7 linked regions of the Homo sapiens genome follow. The protein of the gene in region 1 purifies or fractionates together with the protein of each later gene. This does not show direct contact. Each region holds a gene or a part of one and is shown in the gene's direction. Other genes may lie near its edges. The genes, in order: RXFP1, ST7, PIGQ, SLC12A4, NOTCH3, ABHD6 and ATP8B2.

Evidence for each region.
Region 2: the proteins of RXFP1 (region 1) and ST7 purify together in Homo sapiens (affinity purification with mass spectrometry; one large-scale study listed by BioGRID and IntAct). This does not show direct contact.
Region 3: the proteins of RXFP1 (region 1) and PIGQ purify together in Homo sapiens (affinity purification with mass spectrometry; one large-scale study listed by BioGRID and IntAct). This does not show direct contact.
Region 4: the proteins of RXFP1 (region 1) and SLC12A4 purify together in Homo sapiens (affinity purification with mass spectrometry; one large-scale study listed by BioGRID and IntAct). This does not show direct contact.
Region 5: the proteins of RXFP1 (region 1) and NOTCH3 purify together in Homo sapiens (affinity purification with mass spectrometry; one large-scale study listed by BioGRID and IntAct). This does not show direct contact.
Region 6: the proteins of RXFP1 (region 1) and ABHD6 purify together in Homo sapiens (affinity purification with mass spectrometry; one large-scale study listed by BioGRID and IntAct). This does not show direct contact.
Region 7: the proteins of RXFP1 (region 1) and ATP8B2 purify together in Homo sapiens (affinity purification with mass spectrometry; one large-scale study listed by BioGRID and IntAct). This does not show direct contact.

What each region holds. Positions count from the first base shown.
Region 1 is NC_000004.12:158,528,382-158,531,881, forward strand, and holds part of RXFP1 (relaxin receptor 1 isoform 1 precursor), read left to right. Parts: intron 1-3,500. UniProt on the Homo sapiens protein: Receptor for relaxins. The activity of this receptor is mediated by G proteins leading to stimulation of adenylate cyclase and an increase of cAMP.
Region 2 is NC_000007.14:116,960,001-116,963,500, forward strand, and holds part of ST7 (suppressor of tumorigenicity 7 protein), read left to right. Parts: intron 1-3,500. UniProt on the Homo sapiens protein: May act as a tumor suppressor.
Region 3 is NC_000016.10:572,968-576,467, forward strand, and holds part of PIGQ (phosphatidylinositol N-acetylglucosaminyltransferase subunit Q), read left to right. Parts: intron 1-1,098; 5' UTR 1,099-1,107; coding exon 1,108-1,796; intron 1,797-2,871; coding exon 2,872-3,003; intron 3,004-3,166; coding exon 3,167-3,287; intron 3,288-3,500. UniProt on the Homo sapiens protein: Part of the glycosylphosphatidylinositol-N-acetylglucosaminyltransferase (GPI-GnT) complex that catalyzes the transfer of N-acetylglucosamine from UDP-N-acetylglucosamine to phosphatidylinositol and participates in the first step of GPI biosynthesis.
Region 4 is NC_000016.10:67,955,138-67,958,637, reverse strand, and holds part of SLC12A4 (solute carrier family 12 member 4), read left to right. Parts: intron 1-593; coding exon 594-740; intron 741-841; coding exon 842-896; intron 897-3,500. UniProt on the Homo sapiens protein: Mediates electroneutral potassium-chloride cotransport when activated by cell swelling. May contribute to cell volume homeostasis in single cells. May be involved in the regulation of basolateral Cl(-) exit in NaCl absorbing epithelia.
Region 5 is NC_000019.10:15,187,496-15,190,995, reverse strand, and holds part of NOTCH3 (neurogenic locus notch homolog protein 3 precursor), read left to right. Parts: intron 1-1,567; coding exon 1,568-1,723; intron 1,724-1,821; coding exon 1,822-2,007; intron 2,008-2,647; coding exon 2,648-2,761; intron 2,762-3,001; coding exon 3,002-3,115; intron 3,116-3,500. UniProt on the Homo sapiens protein: Functions as a receptor for membrane-bound ligands Jagged1, Jagged2 and Delta1 to regulate cell-fate determination.
Region 6 is NC_000003.12:58,240,792-58,244,291, forward strand, and holds part of ABHD6 (monoacylglycerol lipase ABHD6), read left to right. Parts: intron 1-3,500. UniProt on the Homo sapiens protein: Lipase that preferentially hydrolysis medium-chain saturated monoacylglycerols including 2-arachidonoylglycerol. Through 2-arachidonoylglycerol degradation may regulate endocannabinoid signaling pathways.
Region 7 is NC_000001.11:154,339,025-154,342,524, forward strand, and holds part of ATP8B2 (phospholipid-transporting ATPase ID), read left to right. Parts: intron 1-1,829; coding exon 1,830-2,038; intron 2,039-3,455; coding exon 3,456-3,499; intron 3,500-3,500. UniProt on the Homo sapiens protein: Catalytic component of P4-ATPase flippase complex, which catalyzes the hydrolysis of ATP coupled to the transport of phosphatidylcholine (PC) from the outer to the inner leaflet of the plasma membrane.

The sequences.
Region 1 (3,500 bases):
TGTAGTTCCAGCTACTCGGGAAGCTGAGGTGGGAGGATCGCTTGAGCCTGGGAGGCAGAGATTGCAGTGAGCCAAGATGGTGCACTGCACTCCAGCCTAGGCAACAGAGCAAGACCCTGTGTCAGAAAAAGAAAAAAAAAGCTCAGAGTAAGTCAACACCAAGTGGATGTCTTCACTATTAATATCTCCTCTCCAGTCCATGCTCCTATCCTATTCCCCAGACAATAGAGTCATCTCTAAAGATGCAGCCCTTTTCATCACATGCCATGCAAATCATGAATCTGGCCCTTGGGGTCACCCCTCTAAGGTGAGAGAGGCTTCATGTGCCACAGGTTGAAAAATGAGACAGCATTGCTACAGCAGAAGAAACTTTGCCAACTTCTCAGGAGTAATTTATAGACTATCAGAATCTCTCAGACACTTCTAGTGTCCAGAGAAATCCTCTCTTTTTTCTGGGTGCCCCAGATAATGTAGGCACCAAATACCTGTGTGCTTCACCGCTCCTATAACCTCTTCTTTCCCACCAAAAAAGAATGCCATCTGTTCTGTCTTTCTGCCTATGCAGGTGCCAGAGAGGGCGGACAGTGGAGGCCCTGGTCGTAGGGAGTCGAATATCCCTAACCTTACTGTTTTCTTCCCTCTCCCCACCCCAGCACACACAGTTTCCTGAGATAGAGTAACATGTTTCAATCCTCACCTTTGTGGGGATTGAAAGGACACTCACAGAGCAACACAGAGCATCCTCACTGTTATGTTAAACGACCCCAAGATATTCATTCCTGATATGGTAAAACATAAATCCCACACTGGTCATAAACTCTGCTATCATGAAAGTCTGATCTCTTTTTTTGCTTGCTTGTTTTTTGTTGTTGTTGTTGTTGTTGTTGTTGTTTATGAGACAGGGTTTTGCTCTGTGGCCCAGGCTGGAGTGCAGTGGTGTGATCACAGCTCACTGCAGCCTCAACCTCCTGGACTCAAGTGATCCTCCCACCTCAGCCTCCTGAGTAGCTGGTACCACAGGTGCATGCCACCACGCCCGGCTAATTTTTGTATTTTTTGTAGAGATGGGAGTTTCACCATGTTGCCCAGACTGGTCTCGAACTCCTGGGCTCAAGCCATCCGCCCACCTCAGCCTCTCAAATCTCTGGGATTACAGGTGTGAGCCACTGCTCCCAAACTCCTTCAAGTTTTGATCCTGCTACATGCTTGGGTTTGTCCTCCTTTGCTTCTTTCCCAGATTGTCTATTTAGTGCCAAATGGACTCCCTGCAGCTTTCCCTTTCCTGGCTAAGCAACCTAGATACTGGCTTCCAGTTCTAATTAAGCAGTTCCTCTTTCTCCCTTAGCGCTTAATTTCTCCTTCCTATCTTAATGATTCTCTGTATTCCTTAGTCTCACCACACCTTCTGACAAAATACCCACAAAGAGAAACTCTCCTGTCTTGGTCCCAAATCTTGCAACCCTAATTCTGATTTCTACTCATTTCATTTCCCTAATAAATACTTCCTCCTCATTAATTAGGACTTTCATAGAGAACAGCTGCCTGTTAAACATACTACTTGCAGATTACACCCCTCCCTCATTTTGCAGTTACCTGGGTTCATGGACATTTTTGGCCGATTTTTTTCAGTGTTGTGTAAATTAGTTCCAACACCTGATCCTCATAATACAAGCAAGTTATGACCCTGCAGTTTCCTGTAGTTGCAGCCATTTAAACAGATAAATTTTACTTTACAGAGTTTAAATTAAAACATTATAAAATAGAACATGCAAATAGATAGGAAATGACAAATTTTGAACAAAATTTATATGCGTGTGTGCCTGGACCTAGTGAAAGAAATCAGATAAGCTGCCCTAGGAAGCTTTTTTGGAAGCTTTTATCCAGGCACATATTGCAAGTGTAAGTTAATGAAAATAACTCTTCTCAGGTGCATCACGCATTGGCTTCTGAGATACAGCACAATCCACTCTACCATTACCTTCACTCATAAAACCTCAGATTCTTTTTATCCTCTTCTCTCACCCTCTGTTGCTCACCCTAGCCTTTTGATATTTTAATGGTTTTTTCCCAGAGCAGGCTAGAAATGTTTGATTCATTTTCAATGGTCCAGAAGATTTGCCGTTTTTACTTTCTCAGTTGTGGCTGATTTGCTGGAAATTGCAGAACTGCCTCATGGTTTATAAATGTTTCTACTTTCTCACACATTTCAAACTTAGACAGAGTGACATCATCAGTCATGCTTTCTGTTAGCTTCTTAACCTCCATTTAACCTCCCTTTTTTGTGTTAAGATCAAGAGAGGTGGCCAGTTTAGCAAAGTCAAATTTAGATTTTTATTTCTGCCCTTCTAATTGCAGTCGTTACCCCTGATCCTGTGAACTTGCAGCACAACAGTTTAAGTTCCCTGGAAAGGAAAGAGGGATTGTTTTTCTTTGTTGATATTTTCTCAACCACTGAGCATTCGTCTTCAGTGGTGATCCAAAATAATGTGGCAAGTCATTTGTCTATCAAATCCATTTTAATGGAAAAAATCTGTACAAAGCTTTTTGTAGCGCATCTGGCTCTTGGGCACCTTTTTTCAAAGTTTCTATGCTAGTAAACGTTAGCAGGTTCAATTTGAAAGCTCCACGCCCTCTTCTGTTCTTCAATCCCCTAGAGGCTTTGAGTCTTTTTTGAGACAGGGTCTTGCTCTCCTGGCCCAGGCTTGAGTGCAGTGATGCAATCTTGGCTCACTGCAAACTCTGCCCCCTGGCTCAAGCAATCCTCCCAACTAAGCCTCGCGAGTTGCTGGGACTCCAAGTGCATGCCACCATGCCTACCTATTTAAAAAAAAATTTATAGAGAGGAGAACACACTACATTGCCCAGGCTGGTCCTAAACGCCTGGGCTCAAGCCATCTGCCTACCTCAGCCTCCTGAAGTACTGGGATTGAGCCACTGCACCTGGTCTGCCTTTGACTCTTCACTGTTTCTCTCTCTTTGATCCAAGGCCCTTGGCCTCACTCTCTGCCCCTCTGTTTCCTCCAATCACTCAGCCCCTCACTCCTGATCCTCTCCTGACACACATATTCCCCTACTGCACAGGGTCATCTTGAACACAAAATTTACTTCTATTCTAATTTTTTCAGGAGAATCCACCCTTCGGTTTTTGTCCTTTTTTTCCTCAGAAAGCACAGGGTTGTGGAGGGCTTCAGGGAATGTTGACAAAGGTAATGCCAGCATTCTCTGACATGAAGTTTGAGGGTGGAAGGAAATGTTATAAACTACTACTACACACACACACTTTAAATCTTATGCCATCATTAACATTAAGCATACCAAATCCAGGTACGATATATAGTGTAAACATTTTCATGTTTACAGACCAGAAACCTCATATGTGTAAAAATTATATTTTATATTTCTATGACTAAAATTCAGAGCTCATGACTCCTACATAAAATAATACAACATTTAAATTTGCTAATTCAAAGTAGCTTGGTTTTAAAATGAGGCACTTTTTC
Region 2 (3,500 bases), on another chromosome or scaffold:
TGAATACAAGTCCAGATTTTGTATGACTTCCTGCAGTGGCTTCCATTGCATTGAAAATACAATCTAAGTGTATTACCTTCATTTACAAAGTTTGATGCTATGGCTCTTTCTTACCCCTCAAATCTGAACTTCCACCTCTCTTTTTCTAGATCACCACCCTCCAAATACGCTGGGATTCTTTTTTTTTTGTTTTGTTTTTTTGTTTTTAAGACAGAGTCTCGCTCTGTTGCCCAGGCTGGAGTGCAGGGACGGGATCTCAGCTGACTGCAACCTCTGCCTCCTGGGTTCAGGTGATTCTCATGCCTCACCCTCCCAAGTAGCTGGGATTACAGGTGCATGCCATCATGTCCGGCTAAGTTTTGTATTTTTAGTAGAGACAGAGTTCGCCATCTTGTCCAGACTGGTCTCAAACTTCAGGCCTCTAGTGATCTGTCCCCCTCGGCCTCCCAGAGTGCTGGAATTCTAGGCGTGAGCCACTGCAGACACATAAAATTGTGCTGAAGTATTTCTAATCACTTCGAGTTACAATTCTGTTAAGTTTCATTTTGCCTGCCAATATTATTCTGAAAAATTTCCCAACCAAATCTTTCTTGTACTACTGTGTCATTGCTCACAGACAATTTTTTTCCACATTGGTAGAACCCTGAACTCCATTCATACAGATAATATGAGGTACTTAACTTGTACATTTGTTTAAGTTCCTTATTGATGCTGGATATTAGATCTTTGTCAGATGCAAAGTTTCCAAAAATTGTCTCCATTCTGTAGGTTTTCTGTTGACTCTGTTGATAGTTTCTGTTGCTGTGCAGAGGCTCTTTAGTTTAGATTTTATTTGTCAATTTTTGCTTTTATTGTAGTTGCTTTTGGTGTCTTCATCATGAAATCTTTGCCCATTCCTGTGTCCTGAATGGTATTATGTAGGTTGTGTTGCAGGGTTTTTATAGTTTTTGGTTTTACATTTAAGTCTCTAATCCATCTTCAGTTGTATATGGTGTAAAGAAGGGGTCCACTTTCAATCTTTTGCATATGGCTAGCCAGATATCCCAGCACCATTTATTGAATAGGCAATCCTTCTCCCATTGCTTGTTTTGTCAGATTTGTCGAAGATCAGATAGTTGTAGGTGTGCAGCATTATTTCTGGGTTCTCTGTTCTGTTCCATTGGTCTATGTGTCTGTTTTTGTACCAGTATCATGCTGTTTTGGTTACTGTAGCCCTGTAGTGTAGTTTGAAGATGAGTAGCGAGTAGCATGATGCCTCCAGCTTTGTTCTTTTGCTTAGGATTGCTTTGGCTATTTGGGCTATTTTTTGGTTCCATATGAATTTTGAAACAGTTTTTTCTAATTCTGTGATGAATGTCAGTGGTAGTTTAATAGGAATATCATTGAAATTGTAAATTGCTTTGGGCAGTATGGGCATTTTAATGATATTGATTCTTCCTATCCGTGAGCATGGGATGTTTTTCCATTTGCTTGTGTCATCTCTGATCTCTTTGAGCAGTGTTTTATAGTTCTTCGTGTAGTGATCCTTCACCTCCATGGTTAGCTGTATTCCTACGTGTGTGTGTGTGTGTGTGTGTGTGTGTGTGTGTGTGTGGTGGGGGGCAATTGTGAATAGGTCTGCATTCCTGGTTTGGCTCTTGGCCTGACTGTTGTTGGTGTATAGGAATGTTAGTGATTTTTGCACATTGATTTTATATCCTGAGACTTTGCTAAAGTTGTTTATTAGCTTAAGGAGCTTTTGGGCTGAGACTATGGGGTTTTCTTTCTTTTTTTTTTTTAATTTTACTTTAAGTTCTGGGATACAAGTGCAGAATGTGTAGGTTTGTTATGTAGGTATACGTGTGCCATGGTGGTTTGCTGCACCTATCAACCCGTCATCTAGGTTTTAACCCCTGCATGCATTAGCTATTTCTTCTAATGTTCTCCCTCCCCTCACCCCCCCACCCCCTGACTGGCCCTGGTGTGTGGTGTTCCTCTCCCTGTGTCCATGTGTTCTCATTGTTCAACTCTGACTTATGAGTGAGAACATGCAGTGTTTGGTTTTCTGTTCCTGTGTTAGTTTGCTGAGGATGGTGGCTTACAGCTTCATCCATGTCCCTGCAAAGGAGATGATCTCATTCCTTTTTTATGACTGTATAGTATTCCATGGTGTACGTGTACCACATTTTCTTTATCCAGTCTATCATTGATGGGCATTTGGGTTGGTTCCATGTCTTTGCTATTGTACATGGTGCTGCAATAAACATATGTGTACATGTGTCTTTATAGTAGGATGACTTATATTCTTTGGGTATATACCTAGTAATGGGATTGCTTGGTTAAATGGTATTATTTCTAGTTCTAGATCCTTGAGGAATCGCCACACTGTCTTCCACAAAGGTTGAACTAATTTACATCCCACCAACAGTGTAAAGGCGTTCCTGTTTCTTCACAGCCTCACCAGCATCTATGGTTTCCTGACGTTTTAATAATCACCATTCTGACTGGTGTGAGATGGTATCTCATTGTGGTTTTGATTTGCATTTCTGTAATGATCAGTGATGGTGAGCTTTTTTCTATGTTTGTTGGCCACATAAATGTCTTCTTTTGAGAAGTGTCTGTTCATATCCTTTGCCTACTTTTTAATGGGGCTGTTTGATTTTTTCTTGTAAATTTGTTTAAGTTCCTTGTAGATTCTGGATATTAGACTTGGGCAGATGGGTAGATTGCAAACATTTTCTCCCATTCTGTAGGTTGCCTGTTCACTCTGATGATAGTTTCTTTTGCTGTGCAGAAGCTCTTTAATTATGTGACTCTGGGGTTTTCTAGATATAGGATCATGTCGTCTGCAAACAGGGGTAGTTGACTTTCTCTCTTCCTATTTGGATGTCTGGGCATTCTATGAATATTTGTGTGGTTGAGATAGTTACTGACTTTGGCCTTACAGCTTGATGATAGACTTGGTCCCTTGACTAGAATGCAATCTTCATATGAGACTGTAAAATGAATAAGTGCTTTGTAGGCTGTAAAATACTATTTAAATCTGAGGCATTATAGTAGGTCTTTTCCTCAGAAGGCTATATTCTATATTCTATAGGCTTGGCTCTCACAGTGAAATGACACATTAAACTATATAATAGAATCTTTTTTATCCTCGATATTCTTTCTAAAACTGCACCAAGCAAGATAATGGGTTATTGGATTGTTTGAAACCACACTACTGTCTGTTTGTTGTAAATGTGGAATAATATCTCTCAACATCATTATTGTATTTGAGATGTTGTTGTAAAGATATCTGTAAAGGGCTTTGGATTTTCCAGAAGAGAGAACTTGTAATGAAACTCATTTTTCTTGTTACAGTGGGGCAAGACAGTTGCTGATGTGTTACCATTACCCATCATTTAAAACTAGCAGGCATTCCTATACTACCTACTGTGCTAAAATAAGGAACTGACAGGCCCAGTTAGTTAGCTGTAGCAGTATTTTATGTTGCTGTGGCTGTGGTATCACTGTTTAATTGC
Region 3 (3,500 bases), on another chromosome or scaffold:
GGGGCTTTCTGTGTCTGAGGAAGGCGAGCGGCCCAGCCAGCCGGCCAGTAGTGCCCCCACCGCTAGGGAGTCCTCCTGCCCTGTGGGGCCCCGCCAGGGAAGGCATCAGTGGAGAAGGAGCCCCAGCTGGCTGCATGGCTCCGCAGGGGCCTGTGAGAAAGGGGGAGGAGAGGCCCAGGGCCTGGGAACCGCGGTAGCTCAGGTGGCTTCCTACTCAACAGCCACCTTGGAAGGCTGGTGTCCCTCAGCCTGAGAGTGCAGGATGCAGTTTCTCCACACCTCCGGGACCTGTAAGCCTCTCTCTCCCCGTTTCTAGGCACCCATGTCGTTGGAGAAATATATCCTGGAGAGAAAATGCTCCCTGAGGGAGCCCTGCCCTGGGGTGGCTGTGGGGATGTCAGGGAGGGCCAGGCACTGCCGGGTGCCACCGTGGGCGGGGGTCAGAGTGGAGGCCGAAGCCCTGTGTGCCCTGAGCAACGAGGCAGGTCCTTCCTGCCCCCAGGGAGGGGCTTGTGGGAGGCAGGGACCTTCTGGGGGGCTGCCCGCCGTGCGCACGAGGTAGTTTCCACAGCCCAGCAGCACATCATTTTACATTTTCATCTTTATTCTTGCTTAATACGTGAATCATGGTTTGTCAAGGTTTCAATTGGCGTGACCTTGCTAATGAGATTGTACAGTTCTCCTCGTGCTACACCTTTAAGCACACCTCTCTAATCAGGTTTCTTAAAACTAAGAAGCCTGGAGTTCGGTTCGGCCCCACAGCCGCGTCAGGTGGTGCCGAGGAGGCCGTGCCCTGGGCCGGCCTGGAAATGGGAGGGCAGGCCTGGTGGCTGCATGTGCGTCCTGCCTCGTGCGGGTGGGGCTGAGCTGGGCCTGGGGTGGACTTGGGGCCAGCACTCTGGCTGCCCCTTGGAGAAGCATGGCCCACGCGAGGCGGCAGCCAAGGAGCCCTACGGCGTCCACCACCGAACTTGAAGCTGAGGTGCCCCGACCTGGGGCCCTGTGGCTGCACCTGTCAGGCCGTCTGTGCAACATCCCGCAGCCCACGGTGGGGGGGCAGCAGCAGCTCTGAGCCGAGCCTCTCCTCTTCTCTTCCAGCCTCCCGGCATGGTGCTCAAGGCCTTCTTCCCCACGTGCTGCGTCTCGACGGACAGCGGGCTGCTGGTGGGACGGTGGGTGCCGGAGCAGAGCAGCGCCGTGGTCCTGGCGGTCCTGCACTTTCCCTTCATCCCCATCCAGGTCAAGCAGCTCCTGGCCCAGGTGCGGCAGGCCAGCCAGGTGGGCGTGGCCGTGCTGGGCACCTGGTGCCACTGCCGGCAGGAGCCCGAGGAGAGCCTGGGCCGCTTCCTGGAGAGCCTGGGTGCTGTCTTCCCCCATGAGCCCTGGCTGCGGCTGTGCCGGGAGAGAGGCGGCACGTTCTGGAGCTGCGAGGCCACCCACCGGCAAGCGCCCACTGCCCCCGGTGCCCCTGGTGAGGACCAGGTCATGCTCATCTTCTATGACCAGCGCCAGGTGTTGCTGTCACAGCTACACCTGCCCACCGTCCTGCCCGACCGCCAGGCTGGAGCCACCACTGCCAGCACGGGGGGCCTGGCTGCCGTCTTCGACACGGTAGCACGCAGTGAGGTGCTCTTCCGCAGTGACCGCTTTGATGAGGGCCCCGTGCGGCTGAGCCACTGGCAGTCGGAGGGCGTGGAGGCCAGCATCCTCGCGGAGCTGGCCAGGCGAGCCTCGGGACCCATTTGCCTGCTGTTGGCCAGCCTGCTGTCGCTGGTCTCAGCTGTCAGTGCCTGCCGGTAGGTGTCCCGGGACAGGCAGGTGGCAAAGAGTGGGGTCCCATGAGTGCTGGCCCATCCCTTTGTCTGCAGTGGGCACAGAGGCCCAGATGCGCTCTTCCTGGGCCCGGGCCCCCTCCCACTCCTGCAGCCCGGGCTTTGGCCCCATCCTGCTCTCCCAACCCTCGCCTCTCAGAGGGTGTCCCTCACCCCTGGGGTAGAGCCAGGTCTCTGGGCAGCCTCAGGGATTGCCAGGGGCCCTCCCAGAAGGTGTAGAGGGTGAACCTCAGTGGCTTAGGTCCCTGAAAGAGAAATCAGAAGGTGAGCACAGACATGACTACTGCTGCCTGGGGGTGCTCCTGAGGGCACACAGGCCCGCTGGCCTCCCTGTAGCCCTGCCTGTGCCCCCAGCAGGCCTCTGGACACTGCAGCGCTCATGGGCTGTGGGGGTGTCATCCACTTGCTGGCCCCGTGTGCCTGGGGGAGTGGTCTACAGGCCCTGCTTCTCTCCACAATCACAGGTGCTGCTGGCCAAGGGTCAGTTGAAGCCCAAGGGCCCTGAGGGGCACGGGGGTAGCCCCGAGCTGTGGCTGAGAACAGAGGGCCCCCTTCCACAGGGGACCTCATCTGCCTGGCGGAGGTGCCCCATGGGGAGCAGCTAGGGGTCACCTGCAGTTGCCCCCTGCCTTAGACCCGGGGGTGCATACTCTGGAAGCCTGGGGTGAGAAGCTAGGCCAGCCCAGGAGACCCCGGGCAGCTTTCTGGGCCCTGTCGGCGGGGCGAGGCCCTGGGCCCGTGGGAGTTGCTGCTGGCTGGCAGGCGCTTCTTGGCACCGGCTCTGGGAGCATGTGGTGACCAGGTGGCCCGGGGTCAGCACCTGCGAGGAGGCCAGGCTCCGTGTTAGTCACGTGCACTGTGAGGTGGGCGCGTTGAGCGCTGCCTACCACCACCTGGGCCACCGAGGGCCCCTCCCACCTGCCCCCTGTCCTGCTGAGCTCAGGAGTGTGGCCTGGGTGTTTGTGGTCCCCTGCACAGTGGGGGACGGTGGGAGGAGGATCTGGAGAGGGACACATCACTCCTCTCCACTCCCACGCAGAGTGTTCAAGCTCTGGCCCCTGTCCTTCCTCGGGAGCAAACTCTCCACGTGCGAACAGCTCCGGCACCGGCTGGAGCACCTCACGCTAATCTTCAGTACACGGAAGGCGGAGAACCCTGCCCAGCTGATGAGGTGTGGGCCTGCCCTGGTCTCTGCAGGGCTGGGTGCGTGCCCTCTGGCCCCTTCTCCATCCCCCTCTGCACCACGCTGACCCCTCCGGCCAGGCAGGCCTCCTCCTGCGGCCCCAGGCTGTGCTGGCCACCCTCATGCCGGCCGGGCCGGACCTCCCTTCCAGGAAGGCCAACACGGTGGCCTCTGTGCTGCTGGACGTGGCCCTGGGCCTCATGCTGCTGTCCTGGCTCCACGGGAGAAGCCGCATCGGGCATCTGGCCGACGCCCTCGTTCCTGTGGCTGACGTGAGTGGACTGGGGTGGAGCCCGGTGTCCCGGGTGGGCGTGGGGACCCCTCCTGGGCAGCAGAGCCTTCCCGGGCCAGAGCCACCGCCCCACAAAGCCAGTTCTACCTTCTCCATGCTCTGGAGACACGGCCCTCCCCTGAACCAGAAGCAGGAACTCCAGGGGCGCTGGGGCCTGGGCAGGGCAGGCCTCGCAGGTACACCCCCCTTTCCT
Region 4 (3,500 bases), on another chromosome or scaffold:
TTTCAGCATGGGTGATGAGATTAGACTTGCTTTCAGAGACCTACTATAGCAGCAGAGTGGGCTGGAGTGTGGAGAGGTTGACAGGCTCAGGAGGGTACCACCCAGGTGCCCCAGGTTCAAGGGACTAAGGCTGGGACAAGGCAGGCTGATCTCAGGGCAGCAGGGAGACAGACTGGGTAGGAGTTAGTGTCTACCGGGACTAGAGTTGGGGGTTGAGAGGGAGGGCCAGGGATGACTTCTGGGACTTTGGCTTGGGTGACTTAGGGCCTGCTGGGTGAGAAGGTGGAGATCTGAGACAAACCTCTCTTTCTAGAAGTTTAACAGAAGAGAGGAAGGGAAGGAGGCAGTACCTTGAGAGAGAGTTAAGGTTCCAAAGTTCAATGTGGGTTTTTAAAAAGAATCAGGTTTTACACCTTCCCAGACTCAACTGTCTTCCTATATGAAAGTCAATAGAGACATCCTAGCTGTCACCCCTACTCTCTGTGTTCCCTGGGGCCCCACTGGGGGAGGGGGCCTGCTGAGTGACTAGGGCTGACTCTCCATGGTGCATCCCTCTGATGCTCTACTCGCCCCCTCCCTTTGTGTTCGCATAGGCACCCAGCATGGGCACCCTCATGGGGGTGTACCTGCCCTGCCTGCAGAATATCTTTGGGGTTATCCTCTTCCTGCGGCTGACCTGGATGGTGGGCACAGCAGGTGTGCTACAGGCCCTCCTCATCGTGCTTATCTGCTGCTGTTGTGTGAGTGTCCTGGCGTGGGAGGGTTGGGCTGGGCATGGGCCACGGCTGCCCCCACAGAGCCCACCCAGCTGAGCCGCTCACCCAGGCCCTCCTTCCCACAGACCCTGCTGACGGCCATCTCCATGAGTGCCATCGCCACCAACGGTGTGGTTCCAGGTCAGTGAGCGCCACCCAAGGCCTGGTGGAAGAGAAAAGGACCCAGTATCTGCCTTGACCTACCTGGGAACCCCCATAGCACACCCCTGCCCCAAGCAGTTCTGTAGTGGGCTCCCAATCCCTGATGCCAGGACAGTGCCCACGTAGGAGCTTTCCTGCTTGACAGAGTTGGAGAGTGCCATTGTGGTTTTTGTTAATATAAAAGCAATACCAAAAAAGAAAAAAAAAGGGCAATGTATGTTTACTGTAAGAGGGTTTGAAAGTGCAAAAAAAGGCCAGGCGCGGTGGCTCATGCCTGTAATCCCAGCACTTTGGGAGGCCGAGGTGGGTGGATCACAAGGGCAGGAGATCGAGACCATCCTGGCCAACACGGTGAAACCCCATCTCTACTAGAAATACAAAAAATTAGCCGGGCGTGGTGGCGGGCGCCTGTAGTCCCAGCTACTCGGGAGGCTGAGGCAGGAGAATGGCGTGAACCTGGCAGGCAGAGCTTGCGGTGAGCCGAGATTGCACCACTGCACTCCAGCCTGGGCGACAGAGCGAGACTCCGTCGCAAAAAAAAAAAAAAAAAATTAGCCAGGCATGGTGGTGGGCACTTGTAATTCCAGCTACTTGGGAGGCTGAGGCAGAGAATAGCTTGAACCCAGGAGGCAGAGGTTGCAGTAGTGAGCCAAGATCATGCCACTGCACTCCAGCTTGGGTGACAGAGCAAGACTCCATCTCCAAAATAAATAAATAAATAATAAAAAAGTGCAGAAAGGTATAGAATGGAAAATTAAAAGCACCCATAATCCCACCATCCTGAAATCACTACTGTTCGCCTTTTGGTATATATAAGTCTTAGGGTCTTATGAAGTATTGCACACGCACACTCTATTTACATAAATTGTATATATATATATATATATGTGTGTGTGTGTTTGTGTGTATTTCCCAAAAGTATATGTGTGTATATATACATATGCATTTATGTGTATATGTTTACGTGTGTATGTGTGTGTGTATGTTTCCCAAGTGTTGAAAACAGTTTTTTGATTTTGGTTTTTTGGGTTTTTTTTGAGACAGAGTCTCTCTCTGTCACCCAGGCTGGAGTGCAGTGGCATGATCTCAGCTCACTGCAACCTCCATTTCCCAGGTTTAAGCAATTCTAAGTGATTCTCATGCCTCAGCCTCCTGAGTAGCTGGGATTACAGGCGACCACCACATTTTTGTATTTTTAGTAGAGACGAGGTTTCACTATGTTGGCCAGGATGGTTTCGAACTCTTGACCTTAACTGATCCACCCACCTCTGCCTCTCAAAGTGCTGGGATTACGGGTGTGAGCCACTGCACCCTGCCGAAAATGGTTTTTTGAAAACAGGATTCTCCATGGTACACCATAACCTAATTAATGTGATTATTCTCCTGCCTGTGGGTTCCACTTTTTCACCATTGTATACATTGTTGTCATGAACATCCTTGAACATGAATCTTTGTTCATGCCCCAGCAGTTCCCTTAGGAGAGGGTCCTGGAGGTGGATTACGGCATGAAAAAGATTGACTTTTCGTTTATTTATTTATTTATTTATTTTGAGACGGAGTGTGTCGCCCAGGCTGGAGTGCAGTGGCACGATCTCAGCTCACTGCAATCTCCACCTCCCAGGTTCAAGCGATTCTCCTGCCTCAGCCGCCCGAGTAGCTGGGATTACAGACATGCACCACCATGCTCAGCTAATTTTTGTATTTTTAGTAGAGATGGGGTTTCACCATGTTGGCTAGGCTGGTCTCAAACTCCTGACCTCAAGTCATCTGCCTGCCTCAGCCTCCCAAAGTGCTGGGATTACAGGCGTGAGCCACTGTGCCCAGCTGACATTTTTTTTTTTTTGAGACGGAGTCTCACTCTGTCGCCAGGCTAGAGTGAAGTGGCATGATCTCGGCTCACTGCACCCTCTGCCTCCCAGGTTCAAACGATTCTCCTGCCTCAGCCTCCTGAGTAGCTGGGACTACAGGTGCACACCGCCACGCCTAGCTAATTTTGTATTTTAGTAGAGACGGGGTTTCATCGTGTTGCCCAGGCTGGTCACGAACTCCTGAGCTCAGGCAGTCCACCCATCTCAGCCTCCCAAAATGCTGGGATTACAGATGTGGGCCACTGCACCCGGCCTTTTTTTAAAAATGTATATTTTTATCATTTCCTTTTTTTAGTAGAGACGGGGTCTCGCCATGTTGCCCAGACTGGTCTGGAACTCCTGAGCTCAAGCAATCCACTCACCCCAGCCTCCCAAAATGCTGGGCTTACAGGCATGAGCCACCACGCCCAGCCAAGATTGACTCTTTGAAAGAATTTCTTGATCCCTGTTCCCAGATTTTCACCAGAGACATTGTCTCAGCAGCAGATACAACCAGCAACATGAGATGACTCTTGTCCCCCTGTGCTTGTCACCCTGGGGCCTGGTCATGACTCTCTGAGTCTTTTAAGGGTGTTAGACTTTGATAGAAGCACAGATTCAGGGCAGGGAGCCGTGGACACTCACCTGGTGGCAGGCACTGTGCGGGGCCTTAGGGCCAAAAGGCTGGATGAGACAGTCCCTCCTCTGGTCTGGAGGAGTCAGACTAACAAAGGCA
Region 5 (3,500 bases), on another chromosome or scaffold:
TAATCCCAGCACTTTGGGAGGCCAAGATGGGAGGATCGCTTGGGCCCAGGACTTTGAGACCAGCCTGGACAACATAGTGAGTTTTTGTCATCTCTACAAAAACTTGGTAGGCTGGGTGTGGTGGCTCACGCCTGTAACCCCAACACATTGGGAGGCCCAGGCGGGTAGATTGCTTGAGCTCAGCAGTTTGAGACCAGCCTGGGCAACATGGCAAAACCCTATCTCTACCAAAAATACAAAAAATTAGCTGGGCATGGTAGCGCATGCCTGTAGTCCCAGCTACTCTGGATGCTAAGGTTGAAGGATGGCTTGAGCCCAGAAGGTGGAGGTTGCAGTGAGCTGAGACTGAGCCACTGCGTTCCAGCCTGGGAGACAGTGTAAGACCGTGTATAACAAAAAAGAGAGAGAAAAAAAGATGATGCTGGAGGCAGCTTTAGTGGGGAAGTGTAAGCCTGGGAGAGGCTTGGGAGGAGGCTGACATTGCACTGATGCATGGCTCAGGGCAGAAGCCATTGGAATGGGGAACTCCTGGGAGTTACCTTTGGAAGTGGCAAAGATCAGAGAACATGTTTAGGAGGGGAACGTGGATATAGAAAGAGGGCATACATGGCAGAGGGTATTACAGAAGCAAAGGCTGGAGTGTAGGACCCTTTTGTAATCAGAAGAGTCAAAAGGTTTTAAAACAATATGTGGATGTTTGCAATTTATTTTATTTTATTTTTGAGACAGAGTCTCACTTTGTCACCCAGGCTGGAGTACAGTGGCATGATCTCAGCTCACTGCAGCCTCGACTTCCTGGGCTCAAGTGATCCTCCCACCTCAGTCCCCCAAGTAGCTGGGATTACAGGCGTGCGCCACCATGCCCGGCTAAGCTTTGTATTTTTTGTAGAGACGGGTCTCACTATATTGCCCAGGCTGGTCTTGAACTCTTGAACTCAAGCGATGCACTCACCTTGGCCTCCCAAAGTGCTAGGATTATAGACGTGAGCCACTGTGCCCGGTCTGCAATTTATTTTTAAATGGTTTAGAAAAGAAGATTGGTAGATTAAGCTAACAATAGTTGAATCTAGGTGGTGGGTATATGAATGGTCAACTTTTCTGTATGTTTGATAGTTCTCATAATAAATGGATTAAAAAAGCAGCTACTAAATACTGTTTAGGTTTAATAAAAACAACAGGCCGGGCGCGGTGGCTCACGCCTGTAATCCCAGCACTTTGGGAGGCTGAGGCAGGCAGATCACCTGAGGTCAGGAGTTTGAGACCAACCTGGCTAACTTGGTGAAACCCCGTTTCTACTAAAAATACAAAAAATTAGCCGGGCGTGGTGGCACATGCCTGTAATCCCAGCTACTCGGGAGGCTGAGCAGGAGAATCGCTTGAACCTGGGAGGTGGAGGTTACAGTGAGCCAAGATCGCGCTATTGTACTCCAGCTTGGGCAACAAGAGCGAAACTTCGTCTCAAAAAACAAAACAAAACAACAACAACGACAAAACAATACTCAAGGGGTGTGGGCCTTTTGGGCAGAGCAGGAAGATCTGCCTATGACTTCTGCTTACCACTTCCCAGGCCTCCTGTGTCACCTGGATGACGCCTGTGTCAGCAACCCCTGCCACGAGGATGCTATCTGTGACACAAATCCGGTGAACGGCCGGGCCATTTGCACCTGTCCTCCCGGCTTCACGGGTGGGGCATGTGACCAGGATGTGGACGAGTGCTCTATCGGTGAGGGGAGCTCCATCGTCTGTGAATGGGCTGGGAAAGAGGGGAGAGGAGGGGGTCCCGGCCAGCCACGCCCACACCGATCGCACTCCATCCGGCAGGCGCCAACCCCTGCGAGCACTTGGGCAGGTGCGTGAACACGCAGGGCTCCTTCCTGTGCCAGTGCGGTCGTGGCTACACTGGACCTCGCTGTGAGACCGATGTCAACGAGTGTCTGTCGGGGCCCTGCCGAAACCAGGCCACGTGCCTCGACCGCATAGGCCAGTTCACCTGTATCTGTATGGCAGGTGGGTGGTGGGCGTGGCCTGGGCGGGTCCTGAGGCAGGGGGCGGGGACAGAGAAGCCCGCGGATGGGGAGCTGAGCAGAATGGGGTGTAAGTGGGTTTGGAGTGGGACCCTTAGAGACTGAAGCCTGGAAGGAGGTGGGGTCAGGACCAGAAGGGAATACTGTGTGATTCTGGGGGCTTGGTCAAATGGAGTCAGTAGAACCTCAGGTGGGCTGGGAGTATTCTTGGCCTTAGGACCCACTCGGGAAGGGGTTGGGGATAGAGAGGCAGAGTCGGGGCTGCTGTGAGGTCAAGGTGAAGCCTGCAGACAAGCTTGCAGTAAGCCTGGGCAAAGGCTATGGGGGGCCCTGGGGCTGGGGGCTGGGGACTGGGGAAAGGGCTTAGTCTGAGGACTGGGGAGAGGAGGAGGGGTTTGAAGGCAAGGCCTCTGCGGACACCCATGAGCCTTGGGCCAGTTGGGACCACGGCTGGGTGACAGTCCAGCCTGTGGCTGAAAATTAAGGTTGGGCTGGGAGTGTAGAGGTGGGGACGAAGGCTCGGGGGATTTGTCGATGAGTAGGAAGGGAAGTACCTCCTTCCTTGCACCCCGTTCACACCATAGGGTAGCCCCCGCTTTCCTAAGCCCTATTCCCTGCCCCAGGCTTCACAGGAACCTATTGCGAGGTGGACATTGACGAGTGTCAGAGTAGCCCCTGTGTCAACGGTGGGGTCTGCAAGGACCGAGTCAATGGCTTCAGCTGCACCTGCCCCTCGGGTGAGGACCTCAGGAGAGGGAGCCCGAAAAGACATGTCTGGGAAGGGGCAAAAACTCCAGGGTGGGAACCTGTAAAACCACGTTAGCGGATAACTTACAATAGAAACCATATGTTATGAAACATTGAAGTTAATTTAAATCCAAGTAAATGGGTTTTTCCACCCAAACAAGGCGGGGCTGGAGAGGGGTGTACTGCTCTCACCCTTTCTGGGCCTCTGCTCATCCCACTCCCCACCCCAGGCTTCAGCGGCTCCACGTGTCAGCTGGACGTGGACGAATGCGCCAGCACGCCCTGCAGGAATGGCGCCAAATGCGTGGACCAGCCCGATGGCTACGAGTGCCGCTGTGCCGAGGGTGAGGCGGGCCAATGACAGTCCGACAAGAATCAGGAGGCGGGGCTTGTGGGCGACAGGGCCAATAACAGACTTGGGGAGAGCTTGGGGGCGGGGTTGTAGCAAGGCAGGACCCAGTGACAGAGTTGGGGGGTGGAGCCAATAATGCATATAGACTGACATAAGGCTACGTGTGGAGCCAAAGTGTTGGGCTGGGCACAGGGTGCCTGTAACTGAATGGGGAGGGCCCAATACCTTCCCCTGGCACCTGCCATGTGCTCCCATCTCCAGTGGAGGGTGGGGCAGAAACAGGGCTGGAGGTGGGGCCACAGCTGGGGGCGGGATTTAACTGTGGGAGAGTCTTGGCTAGGGACAAATTCTGGAGCTTGTAGTGGGGTGGAGTGGAA
Region 6 (3,500 bases), on another chromosome or scaffold:
GCGATCTCGGCTCACCGCAACCTCCGCCTCCCGGGTTCAAGCAATTCTCCTGCCTCAGCCTCCAGAGTAGCTGGGATTACAGGCATGCACAAGCACGCCTGGCTAATTTTGTATTTTTAGTAGAGACGGGGTTTCTCCATGTTGGTCAGGCTGGTCTCGAACTCCCGACCTCAGGTGATCTGCCCGCCTCTACCTCCCAAAGTGCTGGGATTGCAGATGTGAGCCACCGCGCCCGGCCAAACCTGGATAATTTTGAAATTTTGTTGTTGTTGTTGGTTGTCACAACTTGTAGGTAACATCAAGTGGGTAGAGGCCAGGGATGCTGCTAAACGTCCTACGATGCACAGGACGGTGCCACAACAAAGAATTATATGGCCTCCAGTGTCACTTGTGCCACAGTTGAGAAACTGAAACTGGATATGATTTTCACAACATTAAAGTCCTTTCTGACCTTGCATGTAGTTGCCTCTTCCAAGAAGATCAAAGTATTCTCCTAAACCGGACCCTCAGAAACCCTCTGGATCCTATTTGACGCTTCCCAATCCTAGAGGCCACTTGGGGTGTTGCTGCCTGTGGCTGGATGGGTTTGGGGTCTGTCATGAGCTTCTGTGCGGCTCTCTGGTGCTGTACCAAGGAAACTGCTGATTCAGGGGAGCAGGACAGCACTCAGGAGGTGTGGGCAGAGGTTCTTACACTGCTGCAGGTTGGGATCCTCTTCTTTTTAAGTAATATATTAACAGCAGCCTTTGCTCTTAGGCATTTTTCCAGAAGCTGTGGCTGTTTGGCTGTTGGCATTGGGTGTTTGCCTTGTGATATACCCAGAAAAGGATTCATACGTTACATATGATGAAGTCTGGGGATGGGACTGGATTCTGAGAGTATAAAGATGGCAATGCAGACCCTGCCCAGAGACTACTCAGGCATCTCAATAGGCCTGAGCAGTGGCCATGCAGGGTGGTGGAGGTATGGCAGGGCTGCCTAACTCTGCCTGTGAAGTCAGGCAAGATCCCAGCAGTGCAGAGTGAATGCTTAGTATCTGCCTGTCACTGCTTTGAACAGTTTCCTTGCATCATCCCATTTCATCCCCACACTGAGGTAGAATTCTAAGAGGTTAGGTCACTTGCTACAGTCACATGGCAAGCATGTGACCAGAGCAGAGTCACAGTGGTCAATGGCAGAGCAGAGATTTGAACCCAGGTTGTTGAGCTGCAAAACTGAACTGTCAGGAGCATTTACAGAGAGCGGCAGTGCTTTAATAGCTAAGACTTTTAGGATGGGCTGGAGCTCGCCAGGCGAGAGGGAGAATAGGCGTGCCGGGGAGAGAGGAGCAGGTGTGTCAAAGTCCCGGAGGTGTGGGAGAGCACGGCATGTCTGGGGGTTGCAGATCATTATTGGAAGGGATGGAGGGCAGGCAATAGGCAGGTGATAGAAGAAGATGACCCTTGAGAGATGGGCAGCACCAAATCCTAAGTGGCCTTCAACATCATGCTGAGAGCCACTGCCAACCACCAGTGAATTAGCAGAGAGGAAGAGAAAGCTGTGTGACATTGAGCAGCTTGCTTAATTTCTCTAGGACCCAGCTGCCCATCCAAACTAAAACCTCTAAAACTATACTGCTCTGACGAATGTTTCTTTCATTTGTGGCCATATGAGCAGAGTGAAGGAATGCCTGCATTGACACTGGTGGGGCAGCCCTGTTGATTCATGACTTCTCCCCCTAAGGCTGTGTGATGGGTGCAGGGAGTGGTTTCTTCTCAGTCAGCAGTTGGTTTTGTTTCAGCTTTCCAGCTTATCATTTGGCATTGACCAAGTGTCTGCCAAGGGCAAGGCACAGTGTATGCTAAGTACTGTGACAGAGGCAAAGATGTGGTCAGACTTGTTTTTGAGGAGCTTGCAGCCTAGTGGAGGGTCCAGCCAGTGTTCTTTTTATTGTTATTATTATTATTATACTTTAAGTTCTAGGGTACATGTGCACAACGTGCAGGTTTGTTACATATGTATACATGTGCCATGTTGGTTTGCTGCACCCGTTAACTCGTCATTTACGTTAGGTATTTCTCCTAATGCTATCCCTCCCCCATCCCCCTGCCCCACGACAGGCCCCGGTGTGTAATGTTCCCCACCCTGTGTCCAAGTGTTTTCATTGTTCAATTCCCACCTATGAGTGAGACTGTGCGGTGTTTGGTTTTCTGTCCTTGGAATAGTTTGCTCAGAATGATGGTTTCCAGCTTCATCCATGTCCCTACAAAGGACATGAACTCATCCTTTTTTATGGCTGCATAGTATTCCATGGTGTATATGTGCCACATTTTCTTAATCCAGTCTATCATTGATGGACGTTTGGGTTGGTTCCAAGTCTTTGCTATTGTGAATAGTGCTGCAATAAACATATGTGTTCATGTGTCTTTATAGTAGCATTATTTATAATCCTTTGGGTGTATGCCCAGTAATGAGATTGCTGGGTCAAATAGTATTTCTAGTTCTCAATCCTTGAGGAATCACTGCACTGTCTTCCACAATGGTTGAACTAGTTTACAGTCCCGCCCAGCCAGTGTTCTTATCACGAGATACAAATCTCAAGTGTCTTGAGAGAGAAGTGTTCATACCAAATACTGTGGGGCATGGAGGATGAAATAGAGATTACTGGGGGATTGAGGAAAGTCTAAGTGAAGGAGATAACTTCTAGCTCCACCAGAAAGATTTTTTAAAGGAGAACTGGGGGTAGACAGAGGACGTCTTATAGGTAGAGAGTGGAGAAAATAGAGAAAAAAACAGAAAGCCAGTGCAGGTATAGTCATGAGAAAGTCAGATTATTAAGTGTATCTAGTATCTGATTCTCCGCAGTTTCCAGATTGTGGATGGGAAGCAGAAGTTTTCTTTTTTTTTTGAGACAGAGTCTCACTCTGTTGCCCAGGCTGGAGCGCAGTGGCACGAACTTGGCTCACTGCAGCCTCTGCCTCCTGAGTTCAAGGCATTCTTGTGCCTCAGCCTCCTTTGTAGCTGGGACGACAGGTGTGTGCCACCACGCCTGCCTAATTTTTTTGTGTTTTTAGTTAGAGACAGGGTTTCACCATGTTGTCCAGGCTGGTCTCAAACCTCAAGTGATCCACCTGCCTTGGCCTCCCAAAGTGCTGAGATTACAGGTGTGAGCCACTGTGCCTGGCTGGGAAGCAGAAGTTTTCATAACAGGAAAATATTCATTAATGGACTTGCCATGTGCAAAGTTAAGTCCTACTTCATCATCTATCCCTCTGTTTTCAACCCTGGTGGTCAGCCAGGCTCCAGGAGCATCCATATTTTGGCTCTGCGTCTCTGCCTGGTCGTCAGATGTTTTGCAAATATGACATAAACAATGGAAAGTAAAATTGCAACTCTTAAGAGAGGCAATATCTCTTGAAATCAAAGCCAGTGATGTTAAGGAACTGCTTGGATGATGTGTCAAAGCAATAATAGGATCTGGCAATGTGAGATCTGCCAACAATTGATAAAGAGAAGGGATG
Region 7 (3,500 bases), on another chromosome or scaffold:
CCTTGCACTTGAGATAAGGGAACCTGTGACATTTTTAAGGAAATGTTTTATGGAGGTGCTGAAAACTTGTCCTGTCTCCCATCTTTTGTTCATACAGATTCCCCAAATAGCCCTCAACTCTCTCCCAGCCCCCAATCTTACTGCTGGTGATAATAAATAGAAGATACAGCATTTCTGTGCTGAGAGAATATAGTTTAGGCTTTTCCAGGGTGTGAAGAGGAGAGTTGGGAGGTTCTGGGTTTAGTCCTGCCTCCTCACTGGCCATGTGACCTCAGGAAAATCCACGGTCACTCAGGGCCTCACTTGATCTTAGTTTTCCCACGTGAAACAGGAACAGGAGTACTTGTCTCACCTTTTAATAGGATGTCTTGATATAAGATATTGGCTTAGAAGATACATTTTAAACTTAAGTGACTGTACAGTTACTGGGTGGTAGCCTGCTCATTGTGACTGTTGCCACTCCCTTCTGCATTACTATTTAAATGCCTTTGTGCTTACAACCTAATTTTGTTTTCCCACCTATGGGCTTTGCTATCTGTGTTTTGTATCTCAGTTCACTTGAAGCCCTTGGGAGCAGCTAAAGCAGTTTTCTTTCTGAGTCTCATCAGGTCACAGTGTGTATGTTTCGGGAGGCTAAGAGGGGGTTGAAGAGCTGTGTGAGGAAAAGGCCCTTTGGAATGTGAAGACATTCCCATTTGCCTGGTAATGGGATCCTGATAGGTGCCTTAGTCAGGTGGGAAGCAGGGCTCTCGATAGGGCCCCATTGCTCGGCTGCACTGGACCTAAACATGGCCCTTTCTGGAAATGCTAACAGTGCATATGATTAGCAAAGAAGAGGATACGAACAGACCTGGAGATGTTAAAGGCACTATAGGGGCCAGGCATGGTGGCTGTCGCCTGTAATCCCAGCACTTTGGGCGGTGGAGGCGGGAGGATCTCTTGAGTTCAGGAATTCAAGACCAGTGTGGGCAACACAGCGAGATCCCATCTCTACAAAAAATGAAAATTAGCCAGGTGTGGTGGTGTGCACCTGTAGTCCCAGCTACTAGGGAGGCTGAGGTGGGAGGATTGCTTGAGCCCAGGAGTTTGAGGCTACAGTGAGCTATGATTACACTACTGCACTCCAGCTTGGGTGACAGAGACCCTAGCTCAAAAAACAAACAAGCAAACAACAACCACCACAATGCGCTGTGCCATTGTGAAGTGGTGGTGTTCTGCAGATGCCCAGGGCCCTCTCCCTCTGGAGTCAGCACCTCAGCCCTGCCCGGTGTTCAGAATCAGGAATGTAGTGCCCCAAGCCCAGGGTGGAAGGAGCGCACCCAGCCTGTGGTGGGACAGTGACGAGTGGGCTTCAAGCCTTCTCCATTTCCCCTCCCCGGTGCCACCCCTCTTTGAGGTGGCGTCTGTGTTGCTGTGGCATGCACAGCACCCTCATTATTTCTCTCTCTCTTTTCTCTCCCCTCCCTCTGGCACTTTCTCTTGTTTTTCTCTGCATGGTTTCTGTATTATTAGTCCTGAGGTAAGAACTGGCCGAGTGCCTTGTCTACAGCCCCTTTTCCTCCTTTGCTGTCTGTCCTGCCCACCCAGGCCCTTTGCACCTTCTTGTCTGGAGAGCATCAGGAGGGTCGGGTCGGGGCGTTCCTCTGCTGGCTGTGTGCAGCCGGCTCCACCTTCAGGCTCTCCTTGCCCTTTCCCACCCAGGTTTCTGTGCCCAGGTGTCTTCTCCGTTCTTGTCTCTCCCCAGGCGGAGGGCCTGCAGCGAAGGCCCATGTGGGTGGGGCACCTCCTCTTCTTCCCGACCCAAGCCTCACCTCTTGTCCCCTGTGCAGTGTGGAGGTCATCCGTCTGGGCCACAGCTACTTCATCAACTGGGATAAGAAGATGTTCTGCATGAAGAAGCGGACGCCTGCAGAAGCCCGCACCACCACCCTAAACGAGGAGCTGGGCCAGGTGGAGTACATCTTCTCCGACAAGACGGGCACCCTCACCCAGAACATCATGGTTTTCAACAAGTGCTCCATCAATGGCCACAGCTATGGTATGGTGGCACCACTGGGGACTGGGGGCTTGCACCTCGCCTGGAAGGACAGTGGAACTGGGGCCCCACAGTTTCCTTAACATTGGTTTTTTCTTCCTTCCTAGTTGGGTCTGAGGGGCCTAGAAGAAAGGGTCCATCCTGGCCAGGCACGGTGGCTCATGCCTATAGTCATAGCACTTTGGGAGGCTGAGGTGGGAGGATTGCTCGAGCCCAGGAATGCGAGACCAGCCTGGGCAACATAGTGAGACCACATCCCTACAAAAAATTTAAAAATTAGCCAGGTATGGTGGCATGCACCTGTGGTCTCAGCTGGCCAGTGACTCAGGAGGCTGAGATGGGAGGATCACTTGAGCCTGGGAGGTCAAGGCTGCAGTGAGCCATGATCTTCCACTGCACTCCAGCCTGGGCGACAGAATGAGGCCCTGTCTCTCGAGAAAAATCCACACACAAAGAAGAGGTCCATTCTGTGTCCCATGTCAAGAAGCAGATCCTGGCTGGGCGCAGTGGATCACCTGAGGTCAAGTGTTCGAGACCAGCTTGGCCAACATGGTGAAACTCCGTCTCTACTAAAAATACAAAAAATAGCTGGGCGTGGTGGCAGGTGCCTGTTTTCCCAGCTACTCGGGGGGCTGAGGCAGGAGAATTGCTTGAATCCAGGAGGTGGAGGTTACAGTGAGCCGAGTTTGCGCCATTGTACTCCAGCCTGGGCGACAAGAGTGAAAGTCTATCAAAAAAAAAAAAAAAATTAGATTCTGAGAGTCCTCCCCTTGTCCTCTCCTGATGCCCTGACCCTGGTCTCAGCTCCAGGAATTAGGGGAGCTCCTTGGCTGTTTGAAGTGAGACACTGGCCTCTGGGCATCCTGGCCAGGCGGAACCCTGCTAGACTCTCCCCTGTTGCTGCTCAGGGTCCTTGTGAGTCTGTGGAATGTGGCTGTGGTTGGACTTCCCAGTGTGGCCCGTGGCTGTGCTGCTGGGATGGCCTGGGGCAGCATGTGGGGCTGACTTTTATGCAGAGTGTGGACCCCTCTTGTGACTGCTTTCTGTACTGACTGATGCCTTTCGGTCAGTGTCTGAGCCTTGTCTGCTGCTCAGGTCTAATGGGTGCAAGGAGGCCTGGGAGGTGTGGAATTGGAGCTGCCCTGAGGGGGGTGCCGCCTAGGGTAGAGACAGGGATGGTGAGCAGTGGGTGCCGGGGCTCTTTCATGGCCAGGCCTTGGGGTTCTGGAATCTAGGGTGCCTGATGCCTCCTATCCCGCGAGTCAGCAATGTGACTGAGTGACTCACACTGTGACAGCTGCTCAGCGATTAGGGTTGAGGGGCTCAGTGCCTACGGGGATTCTGCATTGGAGATGTTTTTCCATGCTCTGGAGCTCTCTGGCTCTGACATTGCTTCTTTTTCTGCCCTGGCTGTATGTAGGTGATGTGTTTGACGTCCTGGGACACAAAGCTGAATTGGGAGAGG